Homo sapiens: one gene and its partners. The protein of the gene in region 4 purifies or fractionates together with the protein of the main gene of each other region. This does not show direct contact. Each region holds a gene or a part of one and is shown on either strand. Other genes may lie near its edges. The genes, in order: LEMD3, FUT8, ANKMY2 and ADCY9.

Evidence for each region.
Region 1: the proteins of ADCY9 (region 4) and LEMD3 purify together in Homo sapiens (co-immunoprecipitation; 2 studies listed by BioGRID and IntAct, with this or other methods). This does not show direct contact.
Region 2: the proteins of ADCY9 (region 4) and FUT8 purify together in Homo sapiens (co-immunoprecipitation; 2 studies listed by BioGRID and IntAct, with this or other methods). This does not show direct contact.
Region 3: the proteins of ADCY9 (region 4) and ANKMY2 purify together in Homo sapiens (co-immunoprecipitation; 2 studies listed by BioGRID and IntAct, with this or other methods). This does not show direct contact.

The regions. Positions count from the first base shown.
Region 1 is NC_000012.12:65,214,561-65,221,588, reverse strand, and holds part of LEMD3 (inner nuclear membrane protein Man1), read right to left. Parts: intron 5,613-7,028; coding exon 5,546-5,612; intron 3,038-5,545; coding exon 2,970-3,037; intron 1-2,969.
Region 2 is NC_000014.9:65,408,752-65,415,744, forward strand, and holds the start of FUT8 (alpha-(1,6)-fucosyltransferase), read left to right. Parts: upstream 1-3,978; 5' UTR 3,979-4,463; intron 4,464-6,993. UniProt on the Homo sapiens protein: Catalyzes the addition of fucose in alpha 1-6 linkage to the first GlcNAc residue, next to the peptide chains in N-glycans.
Region 3 is NC_000007.14:16,607,751-16,614,778, reverse strand, and holds part of ANKMY2 (ankyrin repeat and MYND domain-containing protein 2), read left to right. Parts: intron 1-1,506; exon of another isoform or gene 1,507-1,640; intron 1,641-4,015; coding exon 4,016-4,230; intron 4,231-5,013; coding exon 5,014-5,149; intron 5,150-7,028. UniProt on the Homo sapiens protein: May be involved in the trafficking of signaling proteins to the cilia.
Region 4 is NC_000016.10:4,106,442-4,113,469, reverse strand, and holds part of ADCY9 (adenylate cyclase type 9), read left to right. Parts: intron 1-7,028. UniProt on the Homo sapiens protein: Adenylyl cyclase that catalyzes the formation of the signaling molecule cAMP in response to activation of G protein-coupled receptors.

The DNA of each region.
Region 1 (7,028 bases), on a different chromosome or scaffold from region 4:
TCTTAGCAAGTGACATAATCTTATACATAGAAAGCCCTAAAGATTTCACCAAAAAAATCTTGTTATTTGGCTGGGTGTGGTGGCTCATGCTTGTAATCCGTGCTTTAGGAGGCCAAGGCAGGAGGATAACTTGAGCCCAGGAGTTTGAGACCAGCCTGGGCAACATAGCAAGGCCCCTATCTCTACTAAAAAGAATCTTGTTAGAATAAACAAATTCAGCTAAGTTGGAAGATATAAAATCAATATACAAAAATCAGTTACATTTCTATACACTAACAACAATCTGAAAAGGAGGTTAAGAAAATAATCCCATTTATAATAGCATTAGAAAGATTTAGATACTTAGGAATAAACTTAACCAGGGAGGTGAAAGACTTATACACTGAAAACTACAAAAAAAAAAAAAAAAGCTGAATGAAATAAAAGACACAAATAAATAGAAAGACATCTCATGTTCGTGAATTGGAAGACTTAATATTACTCAAATTACTATACCACCGAAGGCAATACAGCAATACAAAATCCCAATAGCATTTTTTGCAGAAATAGAAGACATAATCCTAATATCCATATGGAACCACAAAGGCCTCACACTGACTTTAAAACATATGACAAAACTATAGTAATCAAAACAGTATAGTACTAGCATAATAATAGACATAAATGGACCAGTGGAACAAAATAGAGAACCAGAAATAAAGCCACTGATGTATGATCCAACAATCTTCTACAAGGGTGCCAGACTACACAATGGAGAAATGACAATCTCTTCAATAAATGGTGCTAGGAAAACTGGATTTCCACATGCAACAGAATCAAACTGGACCTTTATCTTATACCGTACACAAAAATCAACTCCAAATGGATTAAAGACTTAAATGTAAGACCTGAAACTATATAACTTCTTGAAGAAAACATAGAAGAAAAGCTTCTTGACGTTGATATGGGCAATAATTTCTTGGACATGACACCAAAAGCATAGGCAACAAAAGCAAAAACAGAAAAGTGGGACTACATCAAACTAAAAAGCATATGTGCAGTAAAAAAAAACAGTGAATACAGTGAAAAAGTAACCTACAGAATGGGAGAAAATATTTGCAAACCATATATCTGACAAGGGGTTAATATGCAAAATGCATAAGAAACCCCCACAATTCAATAACAAAATAAATAACCCAACTTAAAAATCAGCAAAGAACTTGAATAGCACTTCTCCAAAGAAGATATACAAATGGCCAACAGATAAGGTATTATATATATGCTGTATACATGCTATATATACACACAGATGTATATGTATATAAATGGTATATGAAAAGATGCTCAACATCAGTAATCATCAGGGAAACACAAATAAAAACACAGTGAGCTATAAGGCAAATAAGTGTTAAGGATAGGCAGAAACTGGAATCCTACTATACTATTGGAAAGAATGTAAAATGGTACAGTCAATATGAAAACAGTATGGAGGTTCCTCAAAAAATAAAAAGTTGAACTACCATATTATCTATCAATCCCACTTCTAGGTATTTGTCTAACAGAATTAAAAGTAGAGTCTCAAAGAAGTACTTGCATTGCCATGTTCATTGATGAATTATTCACAATAGCCAAGAGGTGGAAACAATCTAAAAGCCCATCAACATGACTGGATAAAGAAAATATATGTATACATACAATGAAATTCTACTCAGCCTTAAAAAATGAAGGAAGTACTGTCATGTTACAATATGGATGAAACTTGAAGATATTATGCTAGGTGAAATAAGCCAGTCACAGGACAAAAATTGCAGGATTCAACTTATATGAGGTATCTGTTAATCACACTGATGGAGGAAGAAAGTAAAATGGTGGTTGCCAGGGATATGGAGCAGAGGAAAACGGGGGCCTGCTGTGCAATGGCTATAGAGTTTCAGTCATACAAGATGAAGAAGTTCTAGAGATTTGCTGTATAAGAATGCACATATAGTTGTACGGTATACTTAAAAATATGTTAACAGATTTCACGTTATATATTTTTTACCACAATTTTAACAAGGGGATGGGAGGCATGAAATTTGTATGGCATGACTTGTCCACGTTCAAATGCCAGCCACCTTCCAGGGATCAACGTTTCCATTTGCAAGAACTCAGATCTTTATGAAATTATCTTTATGGAACTGGACCGACAACAAGCTTTCCTGTATGGTTTTCAAATGCCACTTTCCACTTCTGAGAAATCAGAATGACATTTATCCATCTTTAATCTTTTACTACCTTTCATTAAGATTTTCCAGAAATTATTTACAGTAGTTTAGAAAATTCAACAGCAAGTTCTCTTAGTATTTGGAGAAGAAACTGATGTGGGACAGAAGATTTTAAATAAATGGTTAGATATTTACCTGCTCTCTTACATGCTACTACTCACCTATCTCAATTTCCCTATGACCAATGTTTCTTTGTACCCTTTCCAAATTAATATGCATTCTCTCATAGAGAATGTTCTAAAACAAACTAAAAAAAATTGAACAGGTGGCTCACGCCTATAATCCCAGCACTTTGGGAGGCCAAGGCATGCAGATCACTTGAGGCCAGGAGTTTGAGACCAGCCTGGCCAACATAGTGAAACTCCATCTCTACTAAAAATACAAAAAACATTAGCTGGGCGAGGTGGTGGGTGCCTGTAATTCCAGCTACTCGCGAGGCTGAGGCAGGAGAATCGCTTGAACCCCGGTTGCGAACGTTGCAGTGAGTCGAGATCAGCCATTGCACTCCAGCCTGGGGAACAAGAGCGAAACTGTGTCTCACAAAAAAAAAAAAAAAAAAAAAGTTGAACAATTTTACTTTCTCATAACTGCTCATATTATACCAAACAGCAGGCCCAAGCTTTTAACAGTACAATTAAAATAATCAAACATATGATTCTTACAAGTAGCAATGATTTATATAATTTTTTAAAATATAGCTATTAAAATTCTAATTTCATTGCTTACTTTTAAATACGCAGCTGCCTCTTGAACAGAAAGCGTTCTTTGACTAGAACTGCCACATTCATGATCTCCTGGAAAGATTAGCATATTATTAATTTTGAATCAGTACTCTCTTAAACAGAAGAAAACAAACATAATTAATTCAAATATTTTATACATTATACAATTACAGGTTATATTATTATAATCAGTAAAGAAAGAACATGAACAATATTATTTATAATTTCTAGAAGAAATTCCAGTAAGAATATAAACAAAGAAATTCCAGTAAGAATATAAACAAACAACTACCATTACATTAACCACAACTTTTAAATGCATTTCAGTCCAAACAAGAACTTATCTTCCTCTTATATTCCCAACTAAACTGTAAGCTGGTATAGGAACTATGTCACACTGATGCCTATCCACAGATCTTGGCACACAAGACGCCCTCCAGAAATATGTATTATTCCTAAAAGGGAAAAAATTCAGCATATTCATTGTGCTAACTTAACTTACACATCTATTCTTAAAGCTAATCATTTAAGGGTTCAAATAAGTTTGAATTTATTAATGAATTAAAGTATGTGCATTTTCAGAGTATAACTAATCCTATCTTTAGCAAGGGGTGTGCATGCCTTAAAAACTGTTATAACATAACCAGGTGTGGTAGTATGCATCTGTTGTCCCAATTATTCGGGAAGCAGAGGCGAGAAGACAGCTTGACTCCATAAATTTGAAGCTGCAGTGAGCTGTGATCACCCTACTTCACTCCAGCCTGAGTGACAGAAAAGATCCTGTCTCAAAAAAATCTTAAAAAACAAAAATTGTTATAACAGACCAACAGGGAAATCAGGTACAAGTTTCCACCTATGATCTGGTTTCTACAAAGGGATGTGCTCATATAAATCTTTGGAAAACTACATTTATCTTTTCTTTTAATTGTTGATAAGAAGCGAATTCAGGGCTTTTTCTTTAGACTATAAGTGGTTATTAGAAATAAATTATCCTCATATTGAACTCCAATTGTCATGTTTTCCCTTCCCTGTGTCTTTCAAGTAGTTAAAAAGCTTGTTAACATGAAAGTAGAATAATTAAAGTAAAATCCTTGCCAAATGTTTCTAAAATAAAAGCAGCCATGTTCTCATTTCAGTTTTGTTCAAGTAATCATTTTAATGTCAGTAGCTATAAAAAGGGGAGAAGTACCTATCAGATGAACAAGTCTTGAAAGTTTATTAGTGCATCCTCAGAGATTTAGATCCCATAGATTTAGAGCAGAGGTCTGCAAATTACAGCCCATGGGTCAAATCTGGCCTACTCTGGTTTTTATAAATGAAGTTTTACTGGAATACAGCCAAGCTCATTCACTTATGTAGTATTTATGGCTGCTTTCATGGTATAACATAACTGAGTGGTTGTGACAGAGGCAAACTAACCTACAAAGCCTAAAATATCCACTATCTGACCCTTCACAGAAAAAAAGCTTGTTGACCCTTACTCAAGGGGAAGGAATCTGTATCTTTAAAAGCACATCAGATTATGCTGATTTAGCTGGCCATGAACCATACTTGATAAAACAATGCTACAGAGATAGCTGTAGAAGCTTGTGTTAGCAATATCCCTAGCTAGCATAACTAGCATATACTTAACCTATCTCTGGGTGCTACAGCATACCAAATAAATGTCATTAGCTTGAAGTGTGTGAATGACAATCAAAGCAAAGAAGGCTTTTAGCGATATAATACAGAATTAAAAGCTTAAAAAATTGACCAGAATTAAGAACCCAATGTACAAAACAAAGAGAGATCAGAGGATGGGAAACTGTCAGGATCCTAAATACCTCCATTCAACCAGAGAAGTTCCATATTTACCTATAGGCTGCTACCAATAATCTGGTTTACACAAAAGTTCTGCTACATAGAAAAGTTTGAAAACTGCATTTTTCTTTTCTTATGCCTGCTTACAAGAATCCAAGTCTCTTCTTTCAGATTATATGTTTAAAAAAAAAAAAGAACTAAAAAAAGGTAATAGATAAGCTGCTACTGCAGTTTACATGTGCTAAACTTGATACTAATTAATCTATAATAAATTATTCCCATTTCGGACAAGTTGACTACCTTAGAGCTCTCAAAGAATTACTAAGAGCAGACTATGAGGAAAATGCAATTAATCCGGAGAGAAAATTACAGGAGAATAAATTTACTTTATCAAACAGAATGATACCTATACAACCAACAAAAGAAAATCTGCATTTGTATATTTAATCCAAGATTTTAGTTAATTCACTGCTTACCTAATTCCTCTGATACTTAAGCTTTCCAGATTTTTTGTTACCACTGATGCAATAAAGAAATTTGATCAACTTTATAACTATATTATATATATATATTACCTCTAATACAGATGGCAGGCAGGAAAAAAGCCTTCATTAAATACATATGTAAAAATCAAAAATCACTCTGTATAGGTAATGAAAACTTCTAAAGAAAAATATTTCACAAATATAACACTGGACTTGGAAAAATATTTTCTACTAATAACATGCTACATACATTTTTCAAAACATTTTTAGCAACTATAAAAGTTAAAACAATTACCTGCAAGCTGTGCCAATCGATCATGAAGCTTATATAATGTGTTCATCATAAGAGTTTTTTCACTTTCCTAAAATTAAGAGAAGTTATTATGAAATACCCAATTACAAGAAAAAAAACACCAAATAATTCTTAATCAAAAAAAAAAAAACAGTAAATTTAAAATCACAGAAGCCACATAATCTGAAAGACAAATTCACATTTAAGTAATGGGCACCATATTTTTAAGAAACCTTAATCTAAGACTCTAAATTATTACTCTAAATATTTCACTTTCTGGAGAACGATTTAAAAATTGGCATAAGGTTAGTGCTAAAAAAAAGGTCTCACAGACAATAAACTCCATCAATCACCAAAGCAATGTTCCCAATCCCCCTCTGCACAGTGTATTCTTATGTAAACTGTTCATATGAGACTGTTTTCTTCATCAAGGCTGCCCTTCATGTCTTGTTTTAATCTAACTCAACCACATAAAACTAAGGGAATGAGTACTGGCACGTTGACTGATACTCAGTCCTCTCCTAGGCTCCCAAGGTGCCCCTGTATAAACTTATGAACTGTTAAAATGAAACAAACATTAAATAAACATCTACTAGGAGTTAAGAACTGTTCTCTCAGCAAAGCGAGAGACCCAGTGAACAAGATGGTTCCTGTACTCAAGGGCAAAAAACATATTAAATGTTATACAACTGCAGAGTAATACAGAAGATTCTCTTCCCTCCTTCTTCTGTAAATATAGAAGGAGGGAAGGAGGGAACAGAATTTATGGAACAGAATATTTGAGTTTGATTTAAAAGGAAAAACTAACAGATCAGCATCCTAGGCAATGGGAAAGACCCTGAGCAAGGGCATGAAGGCATGAAAGCATTGGTTATATTTCTTACATAACCAGTAGCCCTTGTTTGATTCTGCAAACTACTAGAAAAGTTGTTTAGTATTAACTACCAGACAGCCTTGGATAGCAAGACAGAGAGTTTGACTTCATTCTGAAAATTTAGCAGGAGAGTAAAACAGACTTGTGCATCAGGAATACTACCCGGGCCAGAATGTACAATGTATAGGCTGGCTCGGAAGCAGAAATAATTGTATGAAAAGAGTCCAGATAGAGAATTATTGCAATGGTACAGCCTAAGTACCTGCCAAGTAGTCTAAAGCAACAAGACCTCCAATTTAAGAGCAATTACGATCAGGAGGGATCGACATAAATGATGGAGGGTAGGGTGGGGAGGGGGTAATAGCTTATTGCACTACCTAAAATAAGTCCATGATTTATCAGGGGGCTCTGTCTTTATTACTTTCTTTCTTCCTGAAGTTTCCAACAAAACAGATTTACTGGATGAACAGATCATGGAGCAAATTGAAGCAAGATATAAAAGACTGGAAAAGTAACATTTATATGTCTAATAACATGCAACCTCATCCATTTATTTTGTGGTGTATGTGCAGGGACAGAAGAGAACATGTTTGCACACTATGGGTGGCATGC
Region 2 (6,993 bases), on a different chromosome or scaffold from region 4:
ACTCTTGTAATGGGAAAGATTTGCTCTGGCTTTTTAATGAGTAGGTATAGAGTTTGTTTAAGGAGCTGGCTCAAAAGTGACTTAAAACACATTGAATTTGAAAATATAGATTCTTAGCTACTCAGGAGGCTGAGGCAAGAGTACAGCTTGAGGCCAGGAGTTCAAGACGAGCCTTGGCAACATTCTGCGACCTTGTCTCTAAAAAATAAAAATGAAAATATAGACTTTTTTTCCCTATATTTCATTTTTGTAGTTATTGTCAATGGTGTGTCAAGTTGGCTAGATTTATAGTTTTAGAACTGACGAACAACTAAAACTTACCTAGTCCAACCCTTTTATTTTACAAATGAGAAAACTGAGGCCCAGATGGGTAAAATGATTATCTCAAGGTCACCCCTTCTTGCTCTTGGCAATAACAATGCTGCCCTTTGGATGACTTCCTGGAAAATCGGATCCTGTAAGTGAAATGTAGCTAGAGCAACAATTATAAAACAACGAGAACAATTAACAATTATTCAGAATGCTTCCATGGCTGACAGTCAGTTGGTACACGTTGGTAGAGATAGAAAAATTTCTAAACTATTTGGTAAGTAGCTTATGCTAAGCCTTCTGAGTGCCTCAACCCCTTGCTGGAACTCCACAGATCTCCCCACCGTAATAACAGGATCCACCTCAAAGGTTTGATTTGAGAATTAAATGGTGGAGGTAAAGAGTTTTGCATGAGGCCTGGTGCTCAGCACTATTACACTTTGGCTATTATTTTTATTACAGTCATAATAAAATGGTAGTAAATTTCAAACCAGTTTCTACATGAATGTTCACAACTTAGGAAATGTGATAGCATTCACGTTCATTAACTTTGATCTAGCTAATCTCTCAATAAAATGGCCACTCATGTACTCACTTTAACTTTCATTTTGATCTTTTCCATAGTCTAAGGGTTGACTCCTTCTTGCCCCGGGACACCCGAGTCCCCATAGCTCTAGCTGATGGTTAAGAATTTGACCGAGGCTATATACAAGAAAACAATGCACTGACAAGGCCCTGTTACTTGTTGTATAACAGATCATAACGATTGTTCTGTCTAATCTTTTGTTGAACAGAACTTGTCTTTAACTTTTGGGATAAGCAAAGATGGGTCCAAAACCTAGTTTGGTGAGGGAGGGGTGGAGTAAGAGGTGGAGTACCTGTACTTACTTAAGCAACTATTACAAACTGGCAGTGATGAGCAGCAGAGGCAAGCAGTTGGGAGAAGAGAATGAGAGAGCGCAGCAACAGGGTGGGACCTGCAGCTTGTGGAAAAATGCTTTTGACACAGATACTTTCTGATGGCCAGTGATGTTTAGAACCTTTTGGGGGATTCCTTCTCTCTCAGAATTTAACCTGGCAAGAGAACGACTGAGTTCTAGGAATTTTCTTGTCTGGAGAGAGTAAAATAAATGTATTTTTTAAAAGCTGGGACTGTTATCCACACTGAGAAGAGGCAGGGTATAAAATTCCCTTTCATAAGTGAATTTCCTGGAAATTCATGATTGGCTTGGAACTTAATGTGTAAAGACTTGTTCTCAAATATCAGTTGTTTGACAGAGACCTCCAGTTTTGGGATGGCAGCTAAATCCTGAGCCTGCCTTGGAAAGGGTTTTGATAATAATGTTCCATCACAGGTGGAGAAGCACATTGATTCAACAAAGCAGACTTCAAAACCACTGAAGAATTAGTTTCTGAGTGTATTCAAGAGATACCAAAGTTATTTGTTATTTTAACGTATATTATACTGTTCTATACAAATGCACCAAATCCTGGGCAAAACATTCCTAGGACAGGTTTTTTTTTTTTTTTTTTTCAGTTGGAAGGAGGTAGGGAAAATAAGTGCTTTAATTCCTAGGATTTTGGAAGTAAAAATGGAACACCAGACAAAAATGGAATTTTTAGGCAAATGTAAAGCTTTGTACTTGGGTATCTCAAAGTATTATACAGTGTAAACTATCATGATTATTAACCAACTAGAAGTAGTTCTTTTTTTTAAATTTTATTTTTAATTTTAGACATGAGGGTCTTGCTATGTTGCCCAGGCTGAAGTGGCTACTGACAGGCACGATGTGGCACTGCAGCCTGGAACTCTTGGGCTTAAGTGATCCTTCCTGCTTCTTCTATCTTAAAAAAAAAAAGTTACGCTTGCTTGTTAAAATATTTTTAAAATGCTGTGTTTAAACTAAGAAGTAAATATCCACCCCACCTCTGACTTCTAAAAATTATCTAAAGTATGACTGGTAAGATTTTTACCTTTAATCCCACATAAGTCTAAAATTTGTGTTCATTTCCAACAACCAAAGTGTGTCACTTTTATACCAGAATTTTGTCCTGCTTATACGTTTAGTACAGAAATCTCATGGGAGAGAGCATCCATGCATTTACAAATTGTTATTGAATTATTTTATTGAATGATGACACCCAAACTGAGCTAGAACATAATTCTGGCTCTGCTAGTACATCTTCTGTGTGATCTTGGACAAGTCACTCTACTTTCCTTTCAATTTTCTTTTCTCACAGGGAGATAATCATAAAAACGACTGTAAAGTACAGCACTTCATAGAGTGCTTTTTGTTTAAAGAGCTGACAATAAATACGAGTCTCAAGGTCTAGGAAAGCCTCCCTCACAACCTGAGCTGCTTGAGGACAAGGGATTTTCTTTTGAATCAGCAGTACCTTATTTGTGTATCTGTGATAGAGTTCCTGGTACATAAGAAGGTCTCAATAAATATGTGAATTTATGAATATTAGGCAGATTGCAACCTTGACAGGCCACTGCCTCTTAAATCTCCTTTCTGTGATCTTTTAATATTTAACATCTAAAAGGCCGCCGCTACTTGCTTTGGGATAAGTATCCCCGGTATGTACTTTAAAATGCCCAAGCCTAGAGAAATGATTCTTGTCTTAAGGGCACCATTTCGCTCTCCCACCGTAAAGCGCCCCAGGCTTGGGATCTGGGTCCCAAGGCTACAGGGAAGAGTTTGGAACGGGAAGCTCATCTTCCGGCCCTCTGATTGGCCGGCTCGCACTCCACTCACGCGGCGCGCAGCTCTGATTGGCCTCGGCGGCACCCCTCGTCCCGCGACTACTTTGTGTGCTGGGGCGGCGCGCTCCGGTCCTCCCGCTCAGCTGGCGGTCTGGGCTGCTCTGGGGCAGCCCTTCGGTCCACTGCTCTGCATCGCGGGCGCCGGGAATTTTCCGAGTCCGAGCGGGTAGGACGCATCCTAGGGCAAAGCCTCTCCCCTCTCCCCGTGCTGTTCTCTTTCCCGTACTAAATAAACTTCCGCCTCAGAGGGGCTGTCGCAGCCGCGGGTCGGGAGAGGCCGGGCATCGAACTCAGGCCCTCGTGGGGGGGGTCTTTCTCTTCGAGTGAATGTGGAAACAGCTCTTACAAGATAAAGTAGGGCTTCGCTGAGTCTCCTGGGGGAGCGATGCCATTGTAGGATCGCGCTGGAAGCAGCAGTCAAGCGGCCAAATGCGGGCTGCAGGGGCTGAGCAGCAGCAGCGCGCACCCCTAAAAGTAGCAAGGAGCCAGCTTCAAAACCTCTAGTGCGGGTGCCCCCTAGGGCCGCCGACTGAGCTGGCACGGGCCGGTCCATTCCCGGCGCTGTAGGGAGCACAGCATTCTCTGGAGGCGAGTCTCCTCCCGGGATCCAGGATCCGCTCGCGCCCCGCTCAGCCTCCGGCCTTCAGGCGGTAGAGGGCGGCCTACGCCTGTGTGCGAGCCGGAGCCGGCGTGCGCAGCCGCTGCCCTGCTGGAACTGTGCCGTCCCGCTGTGGCCCGCGGCTCTGCTAGGCGGTGGATGCTGCTGCTACGCTCTCCACCGGCGCAGCGAGGAAGGGGGCGGGGAGAATCCCTGGCACATGCCAGGGTCGCCGTAGGTGGCAGCGGCCGGCGCATGCGCGCCCTCTCCCAGAAGCCAGGAACGCCGAGGGGCGCGCTCCCCCATTCGCGCGCGCACGCCGGCGCTGGCCGAGGCTTCCCCGCCTGCGCTCGTTGTCAGAGCCGCTCCGGCGCGTGCGCGCGTTATCTCCGGCCGACCCGAGCAGCCGGTTCCCTCCTCTCCAGGCCCCCTCCCCATCCCACCCCCGCCGCCTGGCCCCAGCCGACCCGTCCCTTCGTCTCCCCGCGGAATGGGGCCGGCACTGCTCAGGGTCGCGCGCCCTGGACCCAGCTCGCTCTCGGTCTCGCGCTGTCAGCGACTGCCCGGCTCGCGCCGCCTCGCGCTCTGCCTCAGTCAGTGGCGCCGAAGGCTCCGTTAAGCGGCGGCGGCGGTTCCTGTTTCCGTTTCTTCCTCTCCGTTCGGTCGGGAGTAGCATCCTCCACTCAGCCACCCTTCCCACTCCCCCATCGTGGGGCAGCTGCGGCTGAGGGCTGTGGCTTTGGCAGCTGCGACGGGGAGCGGCGGAGACCGCCTCTGCTCCCGCCTGGGGTAAGGGGGCGTTTTGGGAGCCGGGCCCCGCGCGCCTCGGGGTCTTGGGCTGGGCTGCGCGCGGGATCTGAGGAGGCTCCGCGGCTGTCCCTGCTCGTTCACCCGGGCCTGTTGCTGCAACTGCTGCCGGTTAACCAGCGGCTCTCGGAAAAGTGGGGAGGGAGCCCCCGGGACGCTCTGGCGGATGCCTTGGCGCAGCCCCGGGGGCGCGGGCAGAGGGTGAGGGGCGCCCGCCTCTCCAGCCGGGACGCGGAGCTGCGCCGCTGCTGCCCTCGGCGTCGCGCATCCTTGCCTAGGGCAGGGGCCAAAGCCTAGGGAAGGAGAAGGGTTGGGGGCGGGGGTGGGAGGTGTCCGTCGTTTCCCCTCCACACCTACCTTCCCTTCGTCAGCAGCTCGGTCCCTGGAGTCGCGGTTTGTGGGGAGGAAGATGCCCGTGCGTTATGGGCTCTTTCTGAGTGCTGCTCGGGCTAGAAAGCAGGGAGTGGACCCTCACAAAGATCCGCGAGGGACTGATGCAGGGCAGTTAAAGGCTTGAGTGCAGCTGTACTCCCTTTTGATGTGCAAATGACGAGCTGGCGGCTTTTGAGTATCAACTTATTTGGGAAGGTTAAATGAGTCCATATTTATCAGTTCTAGGAGGTTTGTCCTGCAGGATTGAGTGGGTTGTCGGGTGCAGCACCTGTTCTTTCTTCACAGTGGGGATTGCAATCTTCAGAGACGCAGTGTATTTCTTAAGTGGCAGTGTCATGCTTAGGGTTTGTCCCGGATGAGCTTTTATTTTAGCATTTTGCCATATAATATATAGATTGAGGCCTTGGTTAAAGGCACGGACAGGTGGTGTTTTTTTCCTTCCTATGTTTTAATTATTCACAGTTTATTTAAACCCACTCAGGAAGGTGGACCCAGAAAAGCCAAATTCTGTAGTACATAACCCCAAATTTCAAGGTTTTGCGGAACAAATTCAACACAAGTTTTGTGTCAGTTTAGAGTTAAACGCATCTCAAGTAACTGACTTAACTGGCTTGCCTCTATGAAAACTGTAGGCAGGTTTCATTATAGATTTTTTTTTTCTTGTTATTCCGGCGGTTAGGTGCATGTTTATTTTCTTGATTAAATTTACATTCTATGTTTTATGACTAATTCTTTAAATAGGTGCATCATATAGAAAGTATTTTAGGAGAGAAATTATTATTTAAGCACTACAGTATATCAGATATATGAGAAATAATGGAGTTGTAGTCTCTGCTCTTTAAAATAACTGTAAAAACATCTTAAAACCCTATGCCAAATAATAAGGCCCTGTACCTTGCTGTCCTTGTGAAATCTGGTATGTGTATAGAAAATCTTAATTACTTGATTTGTAAATACTACAGTAGTATTGAAAAGGTGGGAATTCAAGCATTTGTAATTGTGATTTCACAGGTTTAGTGTGTAAAAAATGCAGGGAGTTAGAGATGAATAGGCTATAAGACACGTACAAAGGTAGTTCCAAGACATGGATTTTCTTTTTGCTGCCTTATAAATTGAGAATTCTATTTGAATTCAAGAGCTGAACAGCTGGAATGAAACTTGCATAGATTGCAGAAACAGATGCAAAAATGTATCTTTGGTCAAGTTGTGAGTTAACTTGAAGAGTGTCTTGTGTAATAGGATAGTGATTCAAAATAATTTCCATAAAGTACGGCCTTATATAGGTTATATTTTGAGGATATTTTTGAATTTAAAAAGTCACCTGAAGTTGTTTTCCTACAAATCAGTTCTGTTTAAGATGTATGGAATCGAAAAAAACAAAACAAAACTAATTCTGATTACATCCTGCATTGTTTTGTTGCAAATTCTTACCAGTTATTTTTACGCAATTGGAGTGTCCTTAAAAGTGGTGAATCTTAAAATTTGCCAGTGGATTGGAAAAAACTGTTAACTTATTATTTTTAAAAATGCTGTTATATTAGTACATTGGTCTGGAGGGGGAGCTAGTGCCAAAGCAAAGTATAGCTTAATAGCTGTTTGAACTTTTAAAACACCCAAAACCAGATTTTTATGACCAAAAGAAACATAAATTTTTAATTAAAAGAGTAGGAAATTGATGTGGGCATATATATGTACATAGTTATTTGTGGAGTGAATATATTGTGTATTACAAATTAGTTTAAAAAAGTCTTTTCATGCGCTGCAATAATGGAAAGCTAAATGCTTAAAGATTTATTGGATTTCTCACTTAAAAATCTCTAAAATGTACCCCCAAACTTAGAGTATGTTATAGTATTTTCTTAACCTTCTTGTCCTGTTCATCAGAATCTAAGGCATGTATTCTTGACCCATTGTACATGTTGTGTGTTCTTAAATTTTGTTTTTATAATAGCTACAATCCTAAAATTTCAAAAACGAAGCTTCAAGTAGAATCTTATATGGGCGAAGGTATTAATTGTGTGGTAAGCTAGGTATTTATCAAAAGTAGATATAATTCCTTTTTTTTTTTTTTTTAAAGTAGAGATAATTCCAATAAAAAAATGGACCTTTTAGACATCTG
Region 3 (7,028 bases), on a different chromosome or scaffold from region 4:
AAGGTTCTTCCTTAACATAAGGCGTTACTATCATGTAGTAAAATAGATTTCCCCAGAAGTTTATTACGAAAGAAGAATCTGTGGAGTCTGCTGAGCATCATGAAAATGAGTGGACAGTTCTTATAAGGTGACTCTTCTGAAGACTGACACTCACTCAAAGATATAAGATCCAAAATGTGTATAATCTTATTACTTTGTTGATGCATCCCTGTGCATCTTTCTTGAGTACTTGAAGGTTGAGAAACAAACCAAATTTACTCATTGTGTGTTCCTCCACCCAAATTAATTTTCTAGGCCCTTAAGAGAGATGACAAACTAGTAGATACCTTTCCCATCAGACAGAAGAGTGGAATCTGCTATTTTTATTTTAGAAAACTCAGAGTTTTTCTTAATATTCTGGAAGAACTGCCAGAGGCAACACTTGTGATACTAAGTGGGCAAATTCAGTTGTGAACTGCATACTCATGTTTCTAGTGGAGATTACAGAGGGCTTAGAATTTAACCTTTAAAAAATATGTATTTTCTTCTGTGTTACTGTTTCTCTCCCTCCCAGCATACCTAGGGAAAAGAGAACTCCCAAGAGAAGCATTGACCTCTGTCCATGGCACTCTCTCAGGCATGGGCTGGCTGGGATGGGGAGACAGGTTTCTGTCAGGGTACAGTATTTCTCAATGTAGAGAATGTGTGTGGTTCTGTAAGACTCTTGTTCCTCCACTGCCTGAGCAATACAGGATATTCTGGCTTAGACTGACTTGAAGAAGTTCCCTGTACTTTTCTGATTCACTGTCTTTCATATCTATGTTTCTGCCTCTTCAGATTGCAGTAAGGGTTTGTGGAATTTTTTTTTTTTTTTTTTTTGAGATAGGGTCTTGCTCTGTCGCCCAGCCTGGAGTGCAGTGGTACAGATCTCGGCCTTCCAGGTTAAAGCGATTCTCCTGCCTCAGCCTCCTGAGTAGCTGGGATTACAGGTGCCCACCACCACGCCTGGCTAATTTTTGTATTTTGGGTAGAGATGGGGTTTCTCCATGTTGGCCAGGCTTATGGAATAATTTTTTATGTTTACTTGGAACCCAGTCTTTCAGGGTTAAATGTCCTAATAATTATTAATACTCTACCTTCAGTTATCTTTGAAGGTATATATTTTAAGTAAATTAGATTGAGGGCATAATTATGCAGACAATAATTTGTAAAGGTATATAGTCTGAAATAGACTACATAATATTTTTTGGAGTATGAAGGGGGCTATCCTATTATATACCTTCCTCCAGACCAGACCTTGCTTTTTGTAGGTATAAACAATCTATTCGCTCGAAACCTTTTCTTTTATCCACCCTTGGGATCTAAAAGCCACCCAGTTGCTTTTGTTACTGTGGCCCATTTTTATTGCTCTACCCCCTTTTTAAGCTAGCATGGCATTTCCTATGGAGTATTATTTAAAAACTAATAACCACTGTGTAATGTTAAACAGCTTTTAAAACAACCTCGGAAATTCTCCCCAATACACACCTCACTTTTCATTACAGTGCACCTAATATAGCTGTATTTGTGTCTAGATTAAGTGGCTGCCGTAGCAATAAGGATGCATTTGTTTTCAAAAGGGATTTGGAGGATTGTGCTGATGCCCAGAATATGAAGGTTATCTAGGAGAAAAACAAAATCACAGAAAAAAATGTCAGCAGAGCAGGGTCTCTAAGTGTACAGGAGGCAGATGTGCACAGAACAATCATGTCTTTGATTATTGTGATTTTCAAGCCCAGTATTGTAGATTTAGCAGTTTTTAAAAATAGGATTTAAAAAATAAAAAGAATTCAAAATGCCACTACATAAACATATTCTCAGGTAGCAATCCTTTGAATGGTAAAAATTTATCTAGTTTTTAATGCCAATAGAAATATATTTATTTGCTCCTCCTCATTAATTAATAAAAAGGATTTCCTTTATAATATATTACTTCATAATGCTGCAGAGATTAAGGAAGGAAACAAGTACAAATATTATTCTTTTGTGTGCAGCTATGTAGTTGTTTCAATAAGCGCATGTTAATGATGTGGTTATTTGTCATTTTTCTTGGTGTATATTTGTGCTGTGTATTAAAACATAGATAAGGTCTGATGTCTCCAAACAAAAAATTATTAATCTGGGCTCTGTTTGAAATTTTTTGAAAGAATTCTCACTTGTAAGTTTAAGATTCTATAGTTGATTATAAATGCCATATATAAAAATACTGATCAAACAACTTTAAATGATTACAATTAGCAGAAGTATAAACAGATAATTAATGAGTCTTTTCTTCTCCACCATAAATTGTCAAAGTATGTTTTGGTAGAGAGAGTTATCAATAAGGATTCTGATTATACTTACTTCATTAAGTCTAATAACTTATTATTAAGTGCTGGATTTTTGTAAAACACTAGATTGTGTATAAATCTAATAAATGTCAAAAAGTGAAATTCGTTTAATTTTACAAGGACATTTAATCTGTGTTAAATTTCTAATTAGAGGGCTAGCTATGGGCTTTACTAATAGATGATCTTTTTTCATGCCTAAAGAAAAGAATCTAATTCAGGAAATCTACCTGTTGTTCCCTGACATGTATAGTCCCTGGGATATTGATTTAGCTGTAACAGGTAGGTTAGCAAGTACTGACTGGCTGTCTGCTCTGTGCATACAGTTGTGTCCCTGTTACATTTGTTGTGGTCTTTGTGCTCCTTAGTTCAGCTAGATCCAAGTTCTTGTCTTACAACCAGGAAGAATTAGACAGGTGGACACTGGAGAGTGAGTGGAGTAAAATTTATTAAGTGAAAGGAAAGCTCTCAGCAAATAGGAGACGCAGTGCAGGGTGGTTCCCCTACCCAAAGGCGGGAAAGTGCCCCATGTGCCTGGGTCCAGGTCCTTTTATGGACTCAGAAAGGGGAGTGCATGCTGATTGGTTTGTGAGTATGTAAAAAAGGTTAAAGTGAAGACACCACTCAATGGTGGGCACAACAGTGTAGAAAACCAGTTAGGAAAGGGTAGGTGTATGTAAAATAGGTGAAGGGTGGGGATCAATCAGAAGAAATTGAGTCAAACAGGAAGACAAGTTCTCAATCCGGTTCAAGGATTTAATTTGTAGCTTGGCTTTCAGGCTTTAAACTGTCTTTGGCTTGGAAGTGGGGCTTCACCAAGGACCCACCCCTATTCTCTCTAGGCATTTGGCTGCCTCCTGCCACTCTCACATTCATGTTTACATTACTGTTATGCCACCATGGATATTTACAGCAGTCCTTTGCAGACCTACTTCAAATAATCTACCCTACAACAAAGCTAATACAAAAATACTCCATATTACACTAAATTTGAGCATAATCTGTGCATACATAGGAAATGTGGGACTCATAACGTGTAAGATTTGATCATTCTAATATTTCCCCTTTAAAGTTATTTATGGCTTCCTCTTTGACCTGTTCTCATTACTGTAGATGATTGGAAGCATCTTCAGGAAAATTTCCATAGAGAAATATAGTTAATTGGAAAGTAAAGCATATTTCATTTTTAGACTTCATTCTGAAAAAATCTCATTTTCTTGTGCTTAATAAGAATTAATGAGAATTGTAGTTCTCCTAGCCATGAAATTCTAGAGCTGAGTAATGTTAACTAAAAGTGGTTATTGCTCAATGATTTGATTCTTTATGTAAAATGTACAAATTTGTCATGTTTATCTTTAGTAAAAGTGAATTTAACAGAGACTGTAAAATCATGTGCTCTTGAATGGCATACTGGCACTGTGGTGTAGGTAGATGGAAGATCACATTATAACTTTGATATACAGAGTTCAAGAGATTCCACTATTTCAGGGTCTTTCTATATTAGTTCTATAAGTTCTGGGTAATTTGCATTCTAACAAATAACATAATAACTTCATGATCCTAAGGAAGGCTTTCTTTGGTAATCTTTTGAAATCAACTAAATGGACTACCTAATTTGTACATGAACAAGTGTCTCCTTTAATACCTGAGTACACTGGGATTTCCTCTAGATCGTGATGCTTGTAAATGAGAATCCTCTGCTGACAGAAGAAGCAGCCCTGAATAAATGCTACAGAGTGATGGATTTGATTTGTGAGAAATGTATGAAGCAAAGAGACATGAATGAAGTATTGGCTATGAAGATGCATTACATAAGCTGTATCTTTCAGAAATGCATTAACTTCTTAAAAGATGGAGAGAATAAACTGGACACCTTGATCAAAAGGTACTCTTTTTACTATGTCGTTTATAAAATACACTCAAGTGAATATTTTTTTTAATATGAAGCCTCATTATTATGTGTTTCAAAATTAAACATTTTGGCAGCAATTGCTGTTGTTGGACTCACATTTAGTCTTTGACAAACAGAGAATAATATTATACTTATATTGAGTGATTATTCAGTTCTGTATCCTTTACTGTGATGTTTTTGTTGTTACCAGCAATTTACAGATGAGGAATCTGAGGTTTGGAGAGGTTAAATAACATGTGTAAGATCACACCGCGAGAAAGTGGCCCAAGTCCAAATTTGAGAATATTTTATGCCCTAGGTCGCAGCCCTAGGTTTGTAATGGCATCCAGGGTGTCTCTGTTACTGTATCTTGGAGAGCTGTGTGTTATGCTGCTTCTCTGACCACCAGAGATCAAATTCTCTTGCATCCTTACCTAGAAAAGGGAACTAAGTCTGAAGGGTGTGGCTCTATGAGAGTTTTCATTCTTAGTACAAATAACTGACATGGTAATAAGTAACTAGCTAATCTGATAACAGTGTTTAGTGTGTTTTATGGTGGTAGTCACCTTTGCATATTCATTTAATGGGCTGGAAAACCTTATAAGGCCTAGCCTAACATATAGGTTGAACAGCAATTTGAACTGAGCCCGTCATCATGATTTGAAGAGACAAAGAAAATCATAAGTAACAGAAGAAACTACTAAAAACTGTTGGGTTCAACTAGGAGAGAATGCTTAGTGATTCAACTCCAATTACGCTTTAAAAAATATCTTTCAGCTTGTTAAAAGGCCGAGCTTCTGATGGCTTTCCAGTGTATCAAGAAAAGATCATTAGAGAAAGTATCAGAAAATTTCCTTACTGTGAAGCTACACTCCTCCAGCAGCTGGTTCGAAGCATTGCTCCTGTTGAAATTGTAAGGCTCCTCTTACCTAAGTTGACTCTATCAGTAAAACCTAATTCCCACCTATTGTATTGTTAAAGGCAAGTTCTCTTTAATATTTATTTTTATTATTTCAGAATATTTTTAGGAACAAAGGTGGAGATAGGTTTGCCTGCCAAACCTGTTCCTGTTTATTTATTTCCCATCTCACGATCCTCTTCTTACCTTATTATGGTTCATAGTTTCATAAACAGGACGTCGCTATGTTGAAATGTAGATGGTTAGGGTAGAAACTTACATTTTAAGTACATCCACTATGTAATATAGGTACACACATGTACACTTGTAGCTATATGAATTATCAGCACAAAGTCATACACTAGATGCAAGTATGAATTGATCACCTAGGGGGATAGTGTCCAGGCAGTGGGGATGTAGTGGGATAAGCCATGGGAAGGCTCATTGTGGTTCCTGGTAACAATCTCAAAGTATGCCTCAGCTTCCTATAATCCACCTTAATGCCTCTGATTAGAAAATGTCCATACTTACAACCTATTTATACTTACCCACTATATAAGTGTATTTTGTTAACTTTATCTGTTATTTAAATGACTTACTATTCATTTGTCATATATTTTAATTTATTTGGCCTTTTCTATTTTGCGACAGAGTCTGTTTCTGTCGCCTAGGCTGGAGTGCAGTGGCACAATCTCAGCTCACTGCAACCTCCATTTCCCAGGTTCAAGCGATTCTCCTGCTTCAGCCTCCTGAGTGGCTGGGACTATAGGTGCGCGCCACCACGCCCAGCTAATTTTTGTATTTTTAGTAGAGATGGGATTTCACCATGTTGACCAGGTTGGTCTCGAACTCCTGACTCAGGTGATCTACCCACCTCGGCTTCCCAAAGTGCTGGGATTACAGGCATGACCCACTGCGCCCAGCCACCTTTTCTATTTTGAATAGGTTTTTGTTTACCCTATCTATACCCATTCATGCTTTTATACGTTTCAATCAAAAACTTGATCAGCTTTTGTCTATCAGGCAAGAAATTGATCCTAAGACCAGTCCCATCCATGGCTTCCTCCCTCCCTCTGGCAAATCTGGTTCCCTTCTCTGTGCCTTCTCTCTGGGTTGTTATGTCATTCTCAGTGTGGAACATCAGGGCTTCAAGTGGGCTCCAGATGCTCCTTTGTACATTAAGAATTCACCTAGTCTGAGCCATAAAATAAACAAGAAAGACCTGAGCAGAAAAGACCATCTCATAAAGCTCATGCATTAATTTGTTCATGTGTGCTCCCCCTATTTTCAAGAGTTTCTTTACTCATACTTTTTAATATAGTTGGCTATTTAGTGTTTATGCTTTTGGAAGAATAAAGTTAGCAAATTATGATTTGTCAATTACAAATGTGTCTTGGCAGCACATATCAAAGCCCAACCAACCATGAATTAAATAGATGAGGGTTTATGTATTCACATATACATAGATGCCCAAAGGTAGGCAGACTAGGTCTGGCATAGTGACTTAAAAATAGTTTGGGGACCCAAACACTTTCTCATCTTTCCCTTCCAATATTCCTTAGCTGTGTAGGTTCTCATATGCATACTTATGATCTCATGGTTACGAGGCATTTGATGTTCCTCCTCCAGCTCACATTCCTATCCCAGGCAGGCAGGAAGAGCAAAGGGGTCTATATCTGGAAAACATAAGCTCTCCCAGAAGCCCTCTGCCTGTGTCACATGACTTTCCTTAGCTACACAGGAGTCCAGGAAAATTTTTTTTTTTGGCTTTTCTAAACACTCCTCCTCTGAACAAAATTACACTTCTGTTACTGAGGAAGCTGGGAGAATTGATATCAGAGAAGCAACTAGCAGTACCTGTTATGTGGGATTTCCAGCACTCACAAATGGTTGC
Region 4 (7,028 bases):
GGGGGCACGTCCGGTGAATGTAAGGGTATGGAGCCCTTCAGCATTCAGCACTGTTTAGCACTTAAGGAAATTGCCTTTGCATTCATTTGGTCACCCTGAAGTCCCATCCAAATGTTTCTCTCTGCCCTTTTTGCGAAAACGTGGAGAATAAAATCTTTCTCCTCTCTAGGCCTCACTTTGCTTATCCTCAAAATAGGGATAGGAAGTCGGCGCAGTCCTGCAGGTCTCTGGAGAATTAGACGGAGTTACTTACCTCTGAGTACACACTGTCTTTTATCTAGGTCTTTTTTTTTTTTTAAAAAAAGTTTGCATTTTCAGCTTTCAGCCATCATTTGTTTAAGGATATTTTATTATCATAGTATTTGCCTTAAGTGAAGAGCTTCATATTGAGCTTCTCCAGCCACCAGGTGATTTGGAAGGGAGAAACGTACCTGCCGGAGAGCTGGTATTCCCCTCCCTCATCCTCTCAGGTTTGGATCTGGTGCCTGGTCCCTGGTTTGAAGCTCCTTACTGCTATTCTTGATGTTTTTACTGGGCTGCTTGTTTTTTCTAATATAGGACAAAAGTCTTTGAGATCTGGAAAATGATATTAAAATAAGTAGGACGAAAAAGAAAGATTTTAAGTAATCTGCTACATTTCTTCCCCCACTTCCTCCTTTTTAAACAGTCCTTATGTTTTACTAAAATCTTCAGGATTGAGGGGAACATCTGTTGTGGAAGTATGTAGAGAAAATAACACTGATTTTTTTTAAAAGCCTGCTTTTGTGAAGCTGTATTGTATTTTGTGGTCCCCACACACTGCATACTTAAACAGTTAAAAGCCTCAGGAAAGGGAATCCTCGGAAGAAGTAATTAATAGTTCCAATCAGAGATGGCAGAAGTAATAGTTTCAATCAGAGACGGCAGAAGTAATAGTGTCAGTCAGAGACGTCCAGTGGTTGAGGTAGGGCCTGCATAGGTCGTTGGTGTGAGATCATCCTATGTGTCCAGTTGGCATTCTCTTTCTCTGGCTTGTGATCTGAGCTCCTGTATCTTTTATGTATTTGTTCTCTGGCAAGGGAACATCATCTTTCTTCTGATTTTTCTTTATTTTACTAACTTTGCTGTTGAAGATTTTATGGATGTAGACGAAAACTATTTTCACCCGAGAATTCCCCTAACCTAGAGCACTTTAAGGACTATGTTAACAAGGTCAGAAACTACACTTTCTGTTCACTTGAAAGATGCTGCCGTGATGAGTGTCTTTCCGTTTAGGGCGGTGGCACTCGCTCTTGAGTCTGAAGGTGTCAGTGGACGGGGCTGTGGGTGTAACCCCCTGCTTGCCACCTTGGCATTTTTAGGGCCCAGGTGTTGTGAGCTCTGTCCTTGGAGACTGTGGGACGGTGGAGCTGGGCGGCAGTACGTTAAATTAAATATGTTGGCCCAGAGGACAATGAGAACGTTTTGTAAGCTGTACTTTGTATGCTGTATTACTCGAATTTCAAAAATGAAGAGGGTGTAATTATTAAATATGTTTGGAAATTGCCAAGTCATTGAATACCTATTTTGTGAATTTATGAGTAGTTTTATTTTTAAGTTTGTAGATCAGGGGTCTCAGACACAGAGCCAAAAAAAAAAAATGCTAGAGTGAGTTTGTGTTTTTTTTTTTTTAAACCTCAAATAGTGTAAATTTGGTAAATTAACTTTTCTTGACATTTGTGTACATTGTATATTTATAAAAGTTTTAGTACTGTAGGGAGTAGGGAAGATAGAAGGCTTAGCTTAGCTGCTGATTTTTTAAAAGTGATATTCTTTCCTTTAGCTCTTTCTCTGAGACCACGATTTTGTTTTCTTGAGCTCATTTTACAAACCTTTGTGGATAGGACTCCAGGAATAGAGTATGTCTACACAACTTCCTGGCCCTTTTGGAAACTGTCCTTACAAAGCTAAATTGAGATGACAGCACAGTTTGTAGAAGACCCTTTCACACACATAGTTAAGCTTATCTACATGTAAGATCGATTTTAGCCTCTGCCTTTGGGCTGGTGGCAGATGTTTTCTCTATACAATATTGGGTATTACGGGAGGCTGAGGCAGGAGAATTGTTTGAACCCGGGAAGAGAAGGTTGTAGTGAGCCGAGGCTGCGCCACTGCACACCAGCCTGGGCGACAGAGCAACTCTGTCTTAAAAAACAACAACAACAAAAACAAAAAAAACCCCAATACTGGGTGTATTAGCCTTTCCCTCTTACCCCCTTTTCTGATCCCAGGGTTAAAAAGCAGCCAGTAGCGGCCCTGCAGGAATGGGCATCCATAGAATGAGAAGGGGCTTCTAGAACTAGCCTGGGAGCACAGAAGGAAGCTCCTCTCATTCAAATTTATCCGAACAGGCTTTGCAGAAGGGTAGTTTCATGATTTCTGCACATTCCTTCACTCTGAAATCTGTGTCGTGCCCCTGGCACTGACTGTGCACCTGGCACTGTGGATGTGGAGCAGGATCCGTGATCGTGGAGCAGGATCCGTGATCGTGAGGTAGGAGGTGGGACTCGACTCCAGAGGCGGGGTTCAGATGCCAGACCGAATTGAGGACTAGCTGATACAGGGATGGGGCAGAAGCAGCGTTCTGCAAGGCACGCCCACCAGTGTGCCTTGTTAGTTTACTGTCGCCATGGCCACACCCGGAGTTACTGCCTCTTTCCATGGCCGTGACCTGACAACCCAAAAGCCACCACCCTTTTCCTAGAAGTGTCTGCCTAAGCCTACCTTTACTCTACAGGAAATTAAAAGTAGGTATAAGGTAAGGCTGGGCGCAGTGGCTCATGCCTGTAATCCCAGCACTTTGGGAGGCCAAGGCGGGTGGATCACCTGTGGTCATGAGTTGGAGACCAGTGTGGCCAATATAGTGAAACCCCGTCTCTACTAAAAATACAAAAATTAGCCTGGTGTGGTGGTGTGCGCCTGTAATCCCAGGTGCTCGGGAGGCTGAGGCAGAAGAATCGCTTGAACCCAGGAGGTGGAGGTTGCAGTGAGCTGTGATCATGTCCACTGCACTCCAGCCTGGGCGACAGCCTAGGCGAGACTGCGTCTCAAAAAAAAAAAAAAAAAAAAAAAAAAGTAGGTATAAGTATGATTGCAAAACTGCCCTGAGCTGCTACTTTCCGCCTTTGGGAAAGCCCAGCTCTGCAGGAGCAGTCATGGAGCCGTATAACACTGCCTGCCTCTTCAATAAAGGTGTTTTCTTTCCTGCCACCGGCTCACCCTTGAATTATTTCCTGGGCAAAGCCAAGAACCCTCTTGGGCTCGGCCCCACTTTGGGGCGCGTCTGACCTGCGTTAATAGTTCCCAACCTCCGTGAGCTCACAGTTAAAAATGTTGTGGAGTATGTTCGGGAGTGGGGAGCGCTTTAGAGGGGGCTCCTGCTGGAGCTGGGTCCTGAGATCAGGCTGTGGCTCTCCAGGTGGACAGAAGAGCACCAGGGCAGAGCGGAGAGGTGGGTATGGCTGGGCCCTGTGCTTCTCTGTGGGGGCGGACGATTGTTAGTTGTTCATCAGGACAAGGAAGGCCATGGGTAGCGTGGGAAGGAGTTTGCATTTGACCCCATAGGTGTCAGGGAACCACTCAACAGGGGGCTTAGGTGATCTGACTTGCAGTTTTAGAAAGTTCACTCTTTCAGAGCTAGTGAGTGTGGGTTGGAAAGAGATTAATGAGGTGTCGAGTAAATCCCAGGTAGGGGTGATGGTGGCCCAATCCAAAGTTACAGTAGCAGTGATGGAGGTGATGGGATCTGAGTGGCATTAGGAAGAGCAGCTTGATGGGACTGCAAGCCAGATTTAAACAAACGACTGGCAGGAGGGGAAGGGCTTGACCATGTGAATGGGAAATGGCATTTTAAGTTTCTGGAAGTGACTTGGCGACAATGTGGAGTCAGGAATGGGTGAGGGGCCTTTGAAGTTGCTATGGTATGAATGGAGAATGCAGGATGGACTTGCAGAGTACAGAGGCCCGGAACCCCTGGCTTGCTTACTCATTCAGCAAATCATTTACTCCGTGCCAGGCACGGTTCTGGGTTCTGGCAATACAGCCGTAAACAAAACAGACAACAATTCCTGCTCTTGTAATAGGGGACAAGAATTTTTAAGTCAATAATATAGGAGGATCGCTGGAGCCCACGAGGTCGAGGTTGCAGAGAGCCGTGATTGCACCACTGCATTCCAGCCTGGGCGACAGAGTGAGACCCTGTCTCTAAGAAACAAAAACCAGGCCTTCAAATAGGGGAGATCTAATAGAGGGGACAACAGGGGAGTCAAACCATAAATAAGTAAAATAGAAAAAGTGTTTTGTGAACAAACATAAAGCAGGAAGGGGATACAGCAGATGGGGTGTACGAGTGTGAGAAATCTTATCTAGGGTGGCCAGTCACTGGGAGAAGGTTGCAGGAATTTTTAGCATACTGCTAGGATTTTGGAAATAATCTAAAAAGTGAGGGGCCAGGCATGGTGGCTCATGCCTGTAATCTCAACACTTTGGGAGGCCGAGGTAGGCGGATCACCTGAGGTCAGGAGTTTGAGACCAGCCTGGCCAACGTGGTGAAACCCCATATTTACTAAAAATACAAAAATTAACCAGGTGTGGTGGCAGGTACCTGTAATCCCAGCTACTCGGGATGCTGAGGCAGGAGAATTGCTTGAACCTGGGAGACGGAGGTTGCAGTGAGCCAAGATTGCACCATTGCACTCCAGCCTGGGCGACAAGAATGAGACCCTGTCTCAAAAAAAAAAAAAAAAGTGTGAGGGACAGTTATTAAAGATATGGAGAAATGGGCCGGGCGTGGTGGCTCATGCCTGTAATCCCAGCACTTTGGGAGACCGAGGTGGGCAGATCAGGAGGTCAGGAGTTTGAGACCAGCCTGACCAACATGGTGAAACCCTGTCTCTACTGAAAATGCAAAAATTGGCTGGGTGTGGTCGCAGGCGCCTTTAGTCCCAGCCACTTGGGAAGCTGAGGCAGGAGAATCGTTCGAACCCAGGAGGTGGAGTTTGCAGTGAGCCGAGATCGTGCCATTGCACTCCAGCCTGGGCGATAGGGCGAGACTTTGTCGCCAAAAAAAAAAAAAAAAAAAAAAAAAAAAAATGAAGAAACGGTCTGATTAAGGTGAGGGACCTTCCACAGCATTTGGGATGAAACCGCTAGGCCTGAGGGAACCGTGGCTGTTGTATTCTGCCTTGGGCCACAAGCAAAAAATGGTGAGACGTGTTATCTCGAGCTGTTGGCTTTTCCTGTCATAGATACAGGGTCACAAAGACAGAAAATGAAACTGTTAGAAAATATCTACAGGCATCTTCTTTTCCCGTGTAAATATTAGGAAGACAGAATGAAGATGCTCCTCCGCTCTCATCCACACCCATGGTCATATCTCTGAAGAGGGGAATACCAGGGAGTGATCACATTGTCAGATGCAGAAATTAAAAAAGCTTTTTTCCCCAGCCAAACTTTATGCTTGTGGAGCAACTTGGGGAGGAGACCCGCTGGTATGCATTTGGGCAGATTGTCACCTGTTGGCCACCTCTGTGATCGAGACCTTTGCCTTAGAGGAGTTCCTATGTAGACCCTGTCTGGTGGGCCGACAGACCGACAGTGGACGGAGGCATTCTGTATGCGTTAGCCTCTGCAAACAAACACCTGTCTCATGCCGGAAATCTGGGCGCCCCATTAACCCTGAGCACGGGCCTGCCAGCTGACAGAACCCTAGCCAGGTGTTGGTTTGGGGTTCAGTTGCATGCTCAGGTGTTCCCCTTCCTTCCCCCGTTAGCTTGTCCCCACCTAAGCCTGCAACCCTTGCCACTGGGATGCTAACCCGTTAGCAGAGCTCAGTCTCCTTGCTTGGAAATTCTGTGTTGACCTGCACTGCATTCTTTTTTTTTTTTTTTTTTTTTTTTTTTTGAGACAGAGTCTGGCTGTGTCACCCAGGCTGGAATGCCATGGCGTGATCTCAGCTTACTGCAACCTCTGCCTCCCAGGTTCAAGCGGTTCTCCTGCCTCAGCCTCCCAAATAGCTGGGATTACAGGTGTGCGCCACCACGCCCGGCTAATTTTTGTATTTTTAGTAGAGATGGGGTTTCACCATGTAGGCCAGGCCGGTCTTGAACTCCTGACCTCAGGTGATCCACCAGCCTCAGCCTCCCAAAGGGCTGGGATTACAGGCGTGAGCCACCACGCCCAGCCTTGACCTGCATTCTTGAGCAGGATCTGTTATGCACGTGGAAATACAGCCTCTCAGATAGCAAATGGCAGAGATGAGATGAGGCACACAGTTCCCCTCCACAGCTGGGGTGGGAGACAGAAAACAGCAGTAGAGTCGACACTCAAGCTGCCCCCAGTGACCATTTGTTCAGGCTCTTTGAGACCTGGCTTACAGTGACAAGGACACAGCTGTTAATTCTGAAGACAAGCTTTCGAGTAGAAGTAACCTCTGGTAAAGCAAGAGAAGGTTAAGGTTTGCTGAATTGCCAATGGGATGAAGAAGGAAGGGAGGGCTGTCTTTTCAGGTAGAATGCCTAAGGAAGGGAAACATGGAGAAGGAACAATTAGAGCAAGTCAAGAAGTTTCAAGATTTTTGTCTTCTGGCCAGCTTGGTGAGATAGTAATTATGTTTCTGCATATTGGTCAGCGTTGCCTATGTACTTTGCTGTGGAATAGTAATCTTGGAAAAAAACCAACCAACCAACCCACATTAATCTGTCCATGTCTGGGCACAGAGTGTGCAGAAGCCTGCGTGGGCCGTAAGTCTCGTCTTTGTCTTGGTTGGTGATTTTAGTATTGGTGTTTTTGCTGGAATTCCAAAACTGTAAGAGTGTAATCATTCACCATTAGAATTCTGCAGGTCCCCTCCTGACTCTGGACTAGCTGAGCTTAGGGGCCTGTCATCCATCTGGCCCTGGGCATATCATTTGTACTTTGCCTGTGACACACCTCAAGACCTTTTCCAACAGGAACTAGCATCCCTGGAGGGAATTTTGTGAAGAGATGAGAGTTTTTGAAACAGGAAGGGA